3 separate regions of the Homo sapiens genome follow, and regions 2 and 3 are each linked to region 1. The links come from fine-mapping of genetic effects on gene expression. A gene starts in region 1. Each other region holds a variant in brackets. All regions are shown on one strand. Distances are from middle to middle.

Region 1 (4,000 bases):
CCACTGTCTCAAATTAGAGGGAAGGAAACAGCATATGTATTTGGTATATCAGCTAGAGAGGCAAAATGGCTCAAAGAGAAAAGCAACAAACAGAAATCTCCCTGAGTTACTGAAATCCTGGAGCAGATTTTTCACTTCAAATAATTATCTCATAAGTACTGTGGGTTTTAGAAAGAAAATAAAAATCTGGCCAGGTAGGATGGCTCACTCCCATAATCTCAGAGTTTTGGGAGGCCAAGGCAGGAGGATCACTGGTAGCCAGAAGTTCAAGACCAGCCTGGGCAAATAAAATAGACCCAGTCTCTACGCAAAATTTAAAACTCAGCCAGTCGTGGTGGTGCACGCCTGCAGTCCCAGCTACTTGGGAGGCTGAGGCCAGAGGATCGCTTAAGCAGAAGAGTTCAAGGCTGCAGTGATCTTGCCACTACACTTCAGCCTGGGTGACAAAGGGAGACTCTGTCTGTCTTTCTCTCTCTCACACACACACACACACACACACACACACACACACACACGAAACGTAAAAAAGAAAAATCTATAGTAATCAACTATTCTCATCTAAATGTTGCATATGGTTAACGTAGAAAAATAAATGACAAGTCAATCAGTAACACTGTGCATAGAAACCACCGTTAAGCACTTCATTCACCTGTTACAGAGATGCCAAATTAGCTCTTCAGTTTAGCTTATTTTAGAGTGCTAGTTATATTTGAACTTGATACCTATCCTCCAAAAAAACCAAAATATTTCCGAACATTAACTCACAGTCTTTCATGTCATCTCTGAACAGGAAAGGGGACATTTGCTGCCTTTTGCTTCAGAAAAATCAACCACCATACTGAATCATGTAATGGAAATACTTATATCTTGTTCTGAGGTTGCTGCTCAGATCTTGAGTGAAATATAATCACATGGTAAGGGGACCTGGGCCCTAAACACTTCATCCTGTCTACAGCTAAAGAATAGTACAGTATATGAGAATCCATCAGGATCATCACTTCTTACATGTGTTCGTATTGTCAGCACAGAATACGTAGCAAGTGTTCTACAGACGTCGAAAGAACTAGCAAACCCACTGTTGTTTGTGGCGCTCTCACTTCCTGTACTATTTTATTACTCAAGATAAGCCTAAAAGAACAGACAAAACTATCACGAAAACGATTTCTTAACAGAACTATTTTAAAACAAGAGAATCCTCAATTAAAATCATGCCATTTTCTTTCTCTGAAATCTTTAAATTACAGATGTGCTCATCTTTGTTGCCTGGATATGAGTTCTTTCAGCTGGGCAGCGGGAGACTCAAAGTAGTGACTTTTAAGGGATCCTACCAGAGGTGGGGGAGCCAATATAAATTACGTATCCTAATCTGAGACACTCTTCTGTCCTAATACCTGAAGCTTATAGCTTGTCAGGTGGCTTTTCCATGGAAAAACGAGGACATAAGAGAGAGGGCGGACCTTAAGAGTTCTACGGAGGAGCCGGTAACGGCAGCAGGCTTGTCAATCAACTGCAAGGTTGCAGCCCAAAAGAAAAAGAACTCACTTGATCGCTCATCATCGACTCCTCAGAGGCCCTCTAGGACTACCGAGAATCTCTTGCCCTTTGGCTCTTGCCCCCGACATCTCTCCTGGCCCCCCGCCCTGCCCCAGGAGGTCTGGTCCTCTCACCCGCTGCCAAATTCTCACACAGCCTCAAAGGGATCCTCAGGGCGTAAAGCAGCCCCAGCCCCGCCACGAACCACAACGAGGCCCCAGTCCCCGCCAGCCCGGCCCGCAGTCGCTCCCTCCAGCCTAGCGTCGGGTTTAGGCCAGGGACAGATGCAGGAGACGCTCCAACAGCTGCGGCTTCACCCACGCCGCCACGGTCCGCCATCTTGCCGCTATCGCAGGCGCCAGGAGCTGGGAGGGGAGAAGGACAGGAAACCGGGAGTCGGGAATCCTGGGATAGTGGCGGACCTGAAGTTGGCCTCTGTGAAGGCTGAGTCCTGGGGAACCGGGACCGAGAAGATTTCGAAGGTGGAGGAGCGTGTCTCAAGATTGGGGCTACCTGTTCTTTCGTGGGGCAGGGAAGGGGCGGACAGCAGCGCCTATTCTGGAGGAACTGGACTGAGATGTGACCCCGAAGTGTTACCGCTTCCAAACGAAATGAGGGTCACCTTTCACACCGCCCCCCCCCCGGGGTTGGAAAAGCCACCGATCGTTCCAGCTGCCGAGCAGCTCTTAAAGCTTTGGATTCGGCTGTCGTGGAGATAACGGGCACCAGAAAAACTTGTAGGAGTAGCAACAGCTATTTGGTCGGATGGAGGCCAGAAGCCAAGAATAATCGAAACACGCTGCCAGCGCCCATTAGATGGATGGGAAATGAGTGTAACTCATTGGGAAAGATATTAGACTTCAAATCACCTAAGGCAAACCCTACTTCCTGGGGCGCGGGCGCGGGCGCTGGCGTTAGGAGACGTCACTCCCGCGCATAACTGACATGGGGCCCTCTTGGTCGGCGTTTCCGGGCGGGTCCTTCCGACGGCCGCCGCGGTGATTCCATCACTCGGCTTTCTTCCCGGCCTGCCTCGCGCCCGTAGCCGGGCTGGGCCAGAACAGCCCAAGATGGCCGACTTCGATGATCGTGTGTCGGATGAGGAGAAGGTAAGGGGTCCGCCTCTCTCTCTTACCTCCTCCCCCGACAGGGAACTGGGGCCCGGCCCGGCTGCGTTGGGAGCCTAGCAGTGTCCCCAGGAAAAAGAAGCTTCTTGGTCCATGCTGACATACGCTCTCCGCAGTCGGGACGCTTCCCTCTTAGGGGGCTTTCCTCTGCCTCACGGTGGCCCCAGTTCCTCGTTCCTCGACTCTCCTTTTCTCTCAGGCCTGAGGCACAGCCCAGGGGCCTCCCTGCAAGGGAACAGACGTTTCCTTTATTGGATCGTGACTGTGGACTTTTTTCTGTAATTTTGCGAGAGGGTGGTGGTTATGTTGCGACATATCAAAAAGCAGTTATTTTACCGCCTTTAGCAGTTGGGGCTCACCCCATCCCCCCATTTGTAGATATAATTGGGGTTAGTTTAGGGCGAGTCACTTCCTGGTCAGGATGGCCTCTTAACTTCCCTTTTGCTCCTCCTTCCTCAGGAAGTGATTTTGCTGTCACGACTCTTCGACAAGGAGAGGTCCCAAATGTTGTCCATCTCCCTACACATGCACTACTTTTCTCCTGTACTGTCGCCTGTCTGATTCGCTATAATAAATCTGTGAGCCTCAGGGCATTTGCTTCAGAATTTGAACACCAGTCTTTCCCTATAGACACATCCCTTTTAACGATAATTTTTGAAAATTTTGTTTCTTGTTAACAAATCTAGAATAGCTGATGGATTTTCTTAACCTCCAGAAAGGTTTTCTGTAACACATAATAAACCTTATGTTAACACGTTCAAGACTGAACAAAGCATCCTGCCTTCTTTGATGCTCCACTGTGGAGTCTTTGATCAGTTGAATTTGTCAGTGTGCATTTTGTATGCTCATTTCTTGAAAAGGGTCTTAAATACAAGAGCACATTCTAAGGTGGAATAACTTTTCTTCTGACAGTTGCACAGTTTCATAACAGTTTGTCAGGCTTTTCAGTAAGTACATGGTTTTAGGGCACGTAGAACTTAGAATGACCTCACAAGGCAACTTATTGGACAAGAATTATGACATTTGTCTCCCACTGTGGCTATTAGAAAATGTGTCCCCTTGAGTGCTCTGTAAATCTACCTGGGTGTTTTTTTCAATAAGAAGTTGGGATGGGAAGGGGACTGTTATGATCCATAAGTCCTCTGTACGGAATAACTTGATATATGTAGATATGGCATGCCATTTTGAAATGTTTAACAAGCCATTGACAACAGCGTTAGATTTTCTCTTATTTGGAAACTGATCTTCATACATGTTTAAGATTTAGGACAAAAACATTTATGTATAAGCCTATGCTGGAAATCGATCTATAATAAATTGTTCTAAGGCAAATAGTTACT
Region 2 (4,284 bases), 46 kb before region 1:
TGACAGAGCGAGACTGTCTCAAAAAAACCAAATTCTTCAAAAAAACCTTAATAATTATTGTGTTTCATAACACTCGGCTTAAAGGGTCTATCTACAAACAATAATATAAGTTTATAGCATCACTCACTTAGCTGGATATTTTGAAATAGCTGAATTGTCAACTGCTTTGATATTTAGTTGAGGGGAAAATGGGTAAATTTCTACCTATAAATAAAAATGACATTAAAATGTTAAAGTGTATATGTGTGTATGTATATCTATCTATCTATATATCTATATAGTTTTATTTATTTATTTGAGACAGAGTTTCGCTCTTGTTGCCCAGGCAGAGTACAATGGCATGATCTTGGCTCACTGCAACCTCCACCTCCCAGGTTCAAGTGATTCTCCTGCCTCAGCCTCCTGAGTAGCTGGGGTTACAGGCATGTGCCACCAGGCCTGGCTAATTTTGTATTTTTAGTAGAGATGGGGTTTCTCCATGTTGGTCAGGCTGGTCTCGAACTCCTGACCTCAGGTGATCCACCCGCTTCGGCCTCCCAAAGGGCTGGGATTACAGGTGTGAGCCACCACGCCCAGCCTATATAGTTTTAATGAAGCATACTTTATATATCCCAAAATTCATGTTTGTAACTATAGACATATCTTGGACATATTGCAAGTTCACTTCCAGACCACTGCAATAAAGCAAATATCAAAATAAAGCAAGTCACACAAATTTTTTGGTTTCCCATGACATATAAAATTTACTTTGCCCAGATCCACCAGAGGAATCACTATATATGGGACCTACGGCCTTACTAAATGTATTTCTGAAATAATAGGACTTCCAAGTCAAAATGACTTCTTGATCTGTGGGCTGCAGAATGGCTGTTGTGTTAGCAGGTGTGGAAACATTAATCTCCTTGTACATCTCCAACAGAGCTCTTGGGTGACTAGGTACATTGTCAATGAGCAGTAATATTTTAAAAAGAATCATGTCTCAGCAGTAGGTCTCAACAGTGGGCCTAAAATAGTGTTTAAACCATGCTATAAACAGATGTGCTGTCATCCAGGCTTTGTTGTTCCATTTATAGAGCACAGGCAGAGAAGATTTAGCATAATTCTTAAAGACCCTAGGATTTTTGGAATGGTAAGTAAGCACTGGCTTCAACTTAAAGTCACCAGCTGCATTAGCCCCTAAGAAGAGAGTCAGCTTGTCCTCTGAAGCTTTGAAGCCAGGAACAACTTCTCCTCTCTAGCTATGAAAGTCTTAGTTGGCATCTTCTTCCAATAGAAGGCTGTTTCATCTACTTTGGAAATCTGTTGTTTCTCAACATGAGCAAAGCAGAAAAAAGAAAAAGAAGAAAAAAAATTTGAAGAAAATCTTTTGTTTATTATATCTACCTTCATGGAATAAATATAACTCTAAATCAAAGATGAAATTATAAACAGATTAGAAAATATTTTGGGCCAAGGGAGGTGGCTCACACCTGTAATCCCAGCACTTTGGGAGGCTGAGGAGGGAGGATGCTTGAGGCCAGGAGTTCAAGACCAGTCTGGGCAACATGTGGAGATCCTGTCTCTATTTTTTTTTAAAGAAAATATTTTGAACTAAATTATGTAAAAAATGTTGCTATAGTATGCAGTTAAAATTGTGTTGAGAGAAGTTTCTAGATTTAACTGGGTATATCAGAAGAAAGACGAAAATTACAGAGTTAAGTACCTATGTGAGAAGACACAGGAAATTAAAATAAAATAAACTCAAATTAAGTTGAAGGAAGGCAATAAAGAGCAGAAATGAATGAACCAGAAAATAAATAGTAGAAAAAACCCAACAAAGCCAGAGCCAAGTTCTTGGCAAAAACAAGTAAGATTGGCAAATCCCTAAAGAACCTGATCAAGAAAAATAAAACTAGCCAAGGTTAGGAATTAAAAAGTGGGGCCAGGTGCAGTAGCTTATGCCTGTAATCTCAGCACTTTGGGAGGCCGAGGCGGGCTGATCATCTGAGGTTGGGAGTTTGACACCAACCTGACCAATATGGAGAAACCCCATCTCAACCGAAAATACAAAATTAGCTGGGTATGGTGGCGCATGCCTGTAATCCCAGCTACTCAGGAGGCTGAGGCAGGAGAATCACCTGAACCCGGGAGGTGGAGGTTGCAGTGAGCCGAGATCGCGCCATTGCACTCCAGCCCGGGCAGCAAGAGCAAAACTCCCTCT[CA/C]AAAAAAAAAAAAAAAAAAAAAGAATTAAAAATTGAGTATTACAACTAATGCTGCAAATACTAATATGGCAATAAAAGGATTTTATGAATACCTTATGTCAATACATTTGAGAATTTTGATGAAATAAATTTTTAGAAAAATACAACTTAACAAAAACATAAGAAGAAACAAAAAATTTCAATAGTTATGATATGCTTAGAAATTGAATTTGTAATTAAACTATTAAAGAAATGAAATTTGTAACTCAAAGTCTTCTCACAAAGAAAACTGAAGAATCAGATGGCTTTAATAACAAATTTACTAATCATTTAGGGCAGAAATAATTCTAATTTTATACAAATTATTCCACAGAATAAATAAACAGGGACCACTCTTTAACTCATTTATAAATCCAGGGCCAGGCATATGTTTGCTCACACCTGTAATCCCAGCACTTTGGGAGGCTGAGGCGGGCAGATCGCTTGAGCCCAGGAGGTGGAGGTTGCAGTGGGCCAAGATCACACCACTGCACTCCAGCCTGGGCATGAGAGCAAGACCCTGTCTTCGTTTTTTCTTTTCCTGTTTTTTTTTTTTTTTTTTTTTTGAGACGGAGTCTCACTCTGTAGCCCAAGCTGGAGTGCAGTGGTGCGATCTCGGCTCACTGCAACCTTCATCTCTAGGACTCAAGTGATTCTCCTGCCTCAGCCCCCCAAGTAGCTGGGACTACAGGCGCACCCCACCACACCCGGTTAATTTTTTTGTATTTTTAGTAGAGACAGGGTTTCACCATGCTGCCCTGGGTGGTCTTGAACTCTTGAGCTTAGGCGATCCACCCACCTCGGCCTCCCAAAGTGCTGGGATTACAGGTGTGAGCCACTGCGCCCGGACTTTTTTTTTTTTTTTAATGAGACAGAGTCTCACTCTGTCACCCAGGCTGCGGTGTAATGGCACTATCTCGGCTCACTGCAACCTCTGCCTCCTGAGTTCAAGCAATTCTCCTGCCTCAGCCTCTCGAATAGCTGAAGAGTCTGTCTTAAAAAGAAAAAAAAAGCCAGACGCACTGGCTCACGCCTGTAATCCCAGCACTTTGGGAGGCCAAGGCGGGCGGATCACAAGGTCAGGAGATCGAGACCATCCTGGCTAACACTGTGAAACCTCGTCTCTACTAAAAATACAAAAAATTAGCCAGGCGTGGTGGCGGGCGCCTGCAGTCTCAGCTACTTGGGAGGCTGAGGCAGGAGAATGGCATAAACCCGGGAGGCAGAGCTTGCAGTGAGCCTAGATCACGCCACTGCACTCCAGCCTGGGCGACAGAACAAGACTCCGTCTCAAAAAAAAAAGAAAAAAAATCCATAAATAAAAAGTACAGATAAAAAACATAAAGGGAGGAAATAAACATAATTAATAAATAAGAATACAAATGAATAAGAATAGTGGTTACCTTTAGGTAGGAAGGGAGGTTGTAATGGGAAAGGGCAGTCAGGTAGGCGTCTGTGGGTTGATAATGTTCTGTTTCTTGATCTCGATAGTTTTCAAGCATTTACTTTGTAATAAATCATTAAGATGCACATTTTTGTCTCATACACTTTGCTGCATGTGTAGTAGAACTCATAATAAAAAGTTTACAAGGCTGGGCGCGGTGGCTTATGCCTGTAATCCCAGCACTTTGGGAGGCTGAGGCGGGCGGATCACAAGGTCAGGAGATCGAGACCATACTAGCTAACATGGTGAAACCTCGTCTCTACTAAAAATACAAAATAATTAGCTGGGCGTGGTGGCGCGCACCTGTAGTCCCAGCTACTTGGGAGGCTGAGGCAGAAGAATCGCTTGAACTCTGGAGGCGGAGGTTGCAGTGAGCCAAGATTCTGCCACTGTACTCCAGCTTGGGCGAAAGCAAAACTCTGTCTAAAGAAAAATAAAAGTTTACAGTACTCACTCCTTATCCTCAGTACATATGTTTTAAGACTCCCAGTGGATATCTGAAACCACAAATAGTACCAAACCCTACGTACACCATGTTTTTTCCTCTAAATATATGCCCATGATAGAATTTAATTTATAATTTAGGCACAGTAAGAGACTAATAACAATAACTAATGATAA
Region 3 (4,352 bases), 78 kb before region 1:
CAATCACCATTTATACTACAGTTTCTATGGAAAAATGCATTTTGAGCTGACTGTTAGGACATATCTCCTTTAAACAAGAAGGGGGTAGGGTTTCCCACTATTGCACTTTGGTGATGATGATGACAATAAAGGTAGCAACAACAGCTAACACTCACCTAGTTTTTACTGTGGGTAGACATAGTCCTAACACTTGCATATTTTAAAGTCATTTAACGCTCACCAAAACCCATGAGAGGTAGTATTATTCTCATTTTACAACTAAGGGTAGAAAAGGTTAAGTAACTAACCCGAGGTTGTACAGCATTGTTTCAGGGCTAGAATTCAAAGCAAAGCAGCCTGCCTCCAGAATCTATTTCATAATGACTCTGCAATGCTGCCTCTTTTCCACCTTGACAAGGCAGCACTATCGAGCTGTTCTAAATTCCTCTTATTGGGGGTAGAGTACAGCAAGTTTCTCCAAGCTTTAAATGTATATATAGGATCACCTGGGGATCTTGTTAAAATGTAGATTCTGATTCAGAAGGTCTGGAATGGTGCCTGAAGTTATGCATTTTTCATGAGCTCCTGGGTGATGGTGATGCTCCTACTGCATAGAGCAAACACTGTGAAGTGGTGAAGAAGTGTAATTTAAGCCTTTAGTTCCCTTGCTGTTTGTCTGTCTATAAAGGCATCTACACATTGTGTTTATAAGCTGGAAACTGGCCGGGTGCGGTGGCTCACGCCTGTAGTCCCAGCACTTTGGGAGGCCAAGGTGGGTTGATCACTTGAGGTCAGAAGTTCGAGACCAGCCTGGCCAACATGGCAAAACCCCATCTCTACTAAAAATACAAAAGTTAGCTGGGCGTTGTGGCACGTGCCTGTAGTCCCAGCTATGTGGGAGGCTGAGGCAGGAAAACTGCTTGAACCTAGAAGGCGGAGGTTGCAGTGAGCTGAGATCACGCCATTGCACTCTAGTCTGGGTGACAGAGCGAGACTCTGTTTCAAAAAAAAAAAAAAAAAAGAAAAAGAAAAAGAAAAGAAAGCTGGAAACTGCCCATACCACAGTCATTTCCCATTAACTCTTAAATGGAACCTGCCTTTGGAAATCCTGCACAAATATTGGTTTGCAGGAACTTTCAGTAAATACTTAGCTTTTAGGGTTTTAAAATGTACATGTAAAGGCCACAGGGATAAAAATGTGGCTGTAAAAGTTTACCATTAGGCACATTCTTAACACTATATACCATCACCTATACAGATACCAAAATAAATGCTTGTTTATTATCCATCAACTAGAAAAGCAGTATATCAATAACTTTTGGTCTGAAAAAGAAGCTTCCATTTAAAATATGTAATTATTCATTCTCAGTCTCTACTAGAGGAGTGCTAAGGAACTTATGCTATGTAATCGTAAAGATTCTTCTGGTGCCATTAGTGACTGCCTAGGTAAAGGCAGACACTATAAACATTAATTGTAGCTTGCACCCCATGGAAATATACTACTAACAGTTGGTATAGATCTATTCCAGATTCTAGATCTCCCTCCTTGCTCTATTTCACTTCCTTCCCACTCCACTTGCCTGAGACAAATCCAAGAATCATCTCTCCCATTGCTTGCCTGTGATCTCACATACACAGTTGCACATTTTCTTTCCAGCTATTAAATGGATGGAATTCTCTTTCTAGGCCATTTTTATTCGATGCCAGATTACATAGTAAGGTCATTTCAGTTTGAGATGCACTCACTCAACTATTAGCACTACTGCAAATAACAGTTATGAGTATGATCACTAAGTGTTCATTTTACACTGAAAAGAAATAGAATAGTCAGTTTCCAAACCAAATAGCTATACTCCCTGAACAACAGTGGAAAGTCATTCTTCTTGAAGTTTGACCCAGAATCAAGTGCAGACTCAGACTCCTAGGCCTACAGCCAGTGGCAACTTAACACATTATATGGTTGACCTTCAGGGAAAAAGGGAAACCACTGCTCTTACCACTGGTGCCAGAAAAAAGCCAACTAATCTTTAAGGCACAAAATAAACTATTCTTAAGGCAGAAAAAGAAACTGTGAGGAAACAAGTTAGAATGGAGGCATATAGAGAAAAATACAGAAAATACATTACCAAGTAAGGACTAGTTTTTCCATGGTTCTCAGTGTTTT[C/T]ATTTTTGGGAATATAATTAATCAGCATTTTCTTTTTGGGTTTTAACTCCTACTACCTGGTAGAAATGCAAAGATGTACAAGAAAGATGCATTTTTAAAAAGGCTTGGAGACTTAAAGGCAATTATCTTTGCTAATTTTACTTTGAGCCAGTGACATTAATAAGTTCATATAGAAAAGTAAATAGTTGCTGGGCATGGCGGCTCATGCCTGTAATCCCAGCACTTTGGGAGGCTGAGGCGGGCAGATCACTTGAGCCCAGGAGTTCAAGACCAGCCTGGGCAACATGGCAAAACCCTGCCTCTACAAAAAATACAAACATTAGCTGGGCATGGTGGCATGTGCCTATAGTCCCAGCTACTCGGGGGGCTGAGGCGGGAGGACTGTTGAACCCAGGAGGCGGAGGCTGCAGTGAGCTGAGATCGTACCACTGCACTCCAGCCTGGGTCACAGCGAGACCTTGTCTCAGAAAAAAAAAAAAAAGTAAATAGTGATGGGATACCCACTCTAGTATCAGTCCTCAAGTGTTAACTGGTTCAGGAAATGGGGAAGTAGTTCAAAACTAAAGGGTAAAAATGAAAATATAGAACTACACATGGTTCTATATCCAAGTCTGGGGAAGTAAGAACAAGCAGACACAATAACTTGGAGAACCTTTGAGACATAGGCACATTCTGTACCTAGGGACAAATGTCCCATCTGTTCCCCCGCCTTATGTACTTATTATCCATCCTAGTTGTGCTCTTGAGTTTAAAGTTCAACAAATCCTGAGAACTAATGATTTCATTTAAATGAAAAAAATCAAAGGGTTTGTTTACAAAATAGGGTATTTTTAAAAATACCAAAGATAGTAACAAATGCTGTTTATCACCAAAAGTGATCTATAAGAGCAAACTTTATAATGTTATATTGTTACAATCTTATATTGTATTCTTTAAACTTTTAAGCAACAGAAGTAGCTCAAATCACCAAAAATTTATGTTTGATGTATTTATGGCAGCAACTATATACAAATCAATTCCTTTAATTTACAACAAATATCTTCCATTGTTCAGCTGGGTTAGCACAGGCAGATCAGAGATGGTTTCTTGTGTGTTTTACAAATAATCTACACAAGTCCTTGAGATCATACTTACAGCTTTAGCAAAAATACCCATGATTTCAGGAAACTGGTGAGTGAGAATGGCTATCATTGCTGTAGAAGAGCAAAATCCTGCTGTGAAATGGATGAACAAAGGAAGCTCCTTTTTTGGGTAAACAGAAACATGATGAAAGGCTGCAATGGAGAATAGGTAAGAATCAATTTTATTTCAGAATAACATGTAAACAAGTCTTAATCTTTTCAAATGAAATCTGTTTTTAAAAATTAAAAAGAAAAAAAATTTAAAAAGGAAAGTCTCTGGCTAAGCAAGGTAGAAGACAGTTATCCATTATTTATCCCAGCATCAACAGCATATCTAAATAGCCAGACAACTGTGCTGGGTGTGGGAACAGGATGGCGTCATGGGAAAGAATATTGATTACAAAATCATGCTGAGGTGATTTTGAAAAAAAGCTTTGTCACTTATTAGCTATGTGATCTTGAATAAGTTGCTAAACCCTCTAGAAGTTGCTATGGAGAGTTGTAATGATGAACATTTTAAGTGCTTAATGTGAGTTGCAGCCACAGGTGGTGGTTCACGTCTGTAATCCCAGCGCTTTGGGGGGCCAAAGAGGAGGATCGCTTAAAGCCAGGCATGCGACACTAACCTAAGCAAAATCGTGCTTAAAAATTTTTAAAAATTTTAAAAATTAGCCCAGCATGGTGGTGTGTGCCTGTAGGTCCAGCTACTCTGGAGGATGAGATGGGAAAATCACTGGAACCCAGGAGTTTGAGGCTGCAGTGAGCTATGATCATTCCACTGCACTCCAGCCTGGGTGACAGACCTGTCTCTAAATAAATAAATAAATAAATAAATAAATAAATAAATAAATACATTTGAGTTGCTACTTTTTTTTTTGAAGAAGAAGAGTCTCGCTCTGTTGCCTAGGCTGGAGTGCAGTGACATGATCTCGGCTCACTGCAACCTCTGCCACCCAGGTTCAAGTGACTCTTGTGCCTTAGCCTCCCAAGTAGCTGGGATTACATGCACAGGCCACTACGCCCAGCTACTTTTTTGTATTTTTAGTAGAGAGGGGTTTTGCCATGTTGGCCAGGCTGGTCTCAAACTC

Direction of the effects. Alleles are on the strand shown, and positions count from the first base shown. SD is a standard deviation of normalised expression in the study named. Not every link is listed here.
For the expression in lymphoblastoid cells of the gene that starts at base 1,900 in region 1, CA is the low allele of the variant in region 2 and C is the other (large effect, 1.0 SD a copy in CAP).

What was found. PIP is the estimated chance that this variant, and not a neighbour inherited with it, causes the effect.
Region 2: its variant is fine-mapped to the expression of ST7L in lymphoblastoid cells (CAP, PIP 0.95).
Region 3: its variant is fine-mapped to the expression of ST7L in lung (TOPMed, PIP above 0.99). The same link has a PIP of 0.9 or more in fibroblasts, lymphoblastoid cells, monocytes and whole blood.

What each region holds. Positions count from the first base shown.
Region 1 is chr1:112,617,242-112,621,241 of GRCh38, forward strand. ST7L (suppression of tumorigenicity 7 like) reads right to left here and starts at 1,900. Exons shown (of 15, transcript NM_017744.5): 1 at 1,668-1,900. The coding sequence starts at 1,872. It overlaps CAPZA1 (capping actin protein of muscle Z-line subunit alpha 1), which reads left to right and starts at 2,591. Exons shown (of 10, transcript NM_006135.3): 1 at 2,591-2,642. The coding sequence starts at 2,604. RefSeq lists enhancers at 1,864-1,963, 2,072-3,271, 2,424-2,873.
Region 2 is chr1:112,571,148-112,575,431 of GRCh38, forward strand. All of the region lies in intron 11 of ST7L (suppression of tumorigenicity 7 like), which reads right to left. Among named protein-coding and RNA genes, the nearest start is that of ST7L, 46 kb to the right of the region's middle. The variant CA/C (reference allele first, on the strand shown) is at 2,201.
Region 3 is chr1:112,538,674-112,543,025 of GRCh38, forward strand. It overlaps ST7L (suppression of tumorigenicity 7 like), which reads right to left. Exons shown (of 15, transcript NM_017744.5): 14 at 3,278-3,417. Among named protein-coding and RNA genes, the nearest start is that of WNT2B, 32 kb to the left of the region's middle. The variant C/T (reference allele first, on the strand shown) is at 2,144.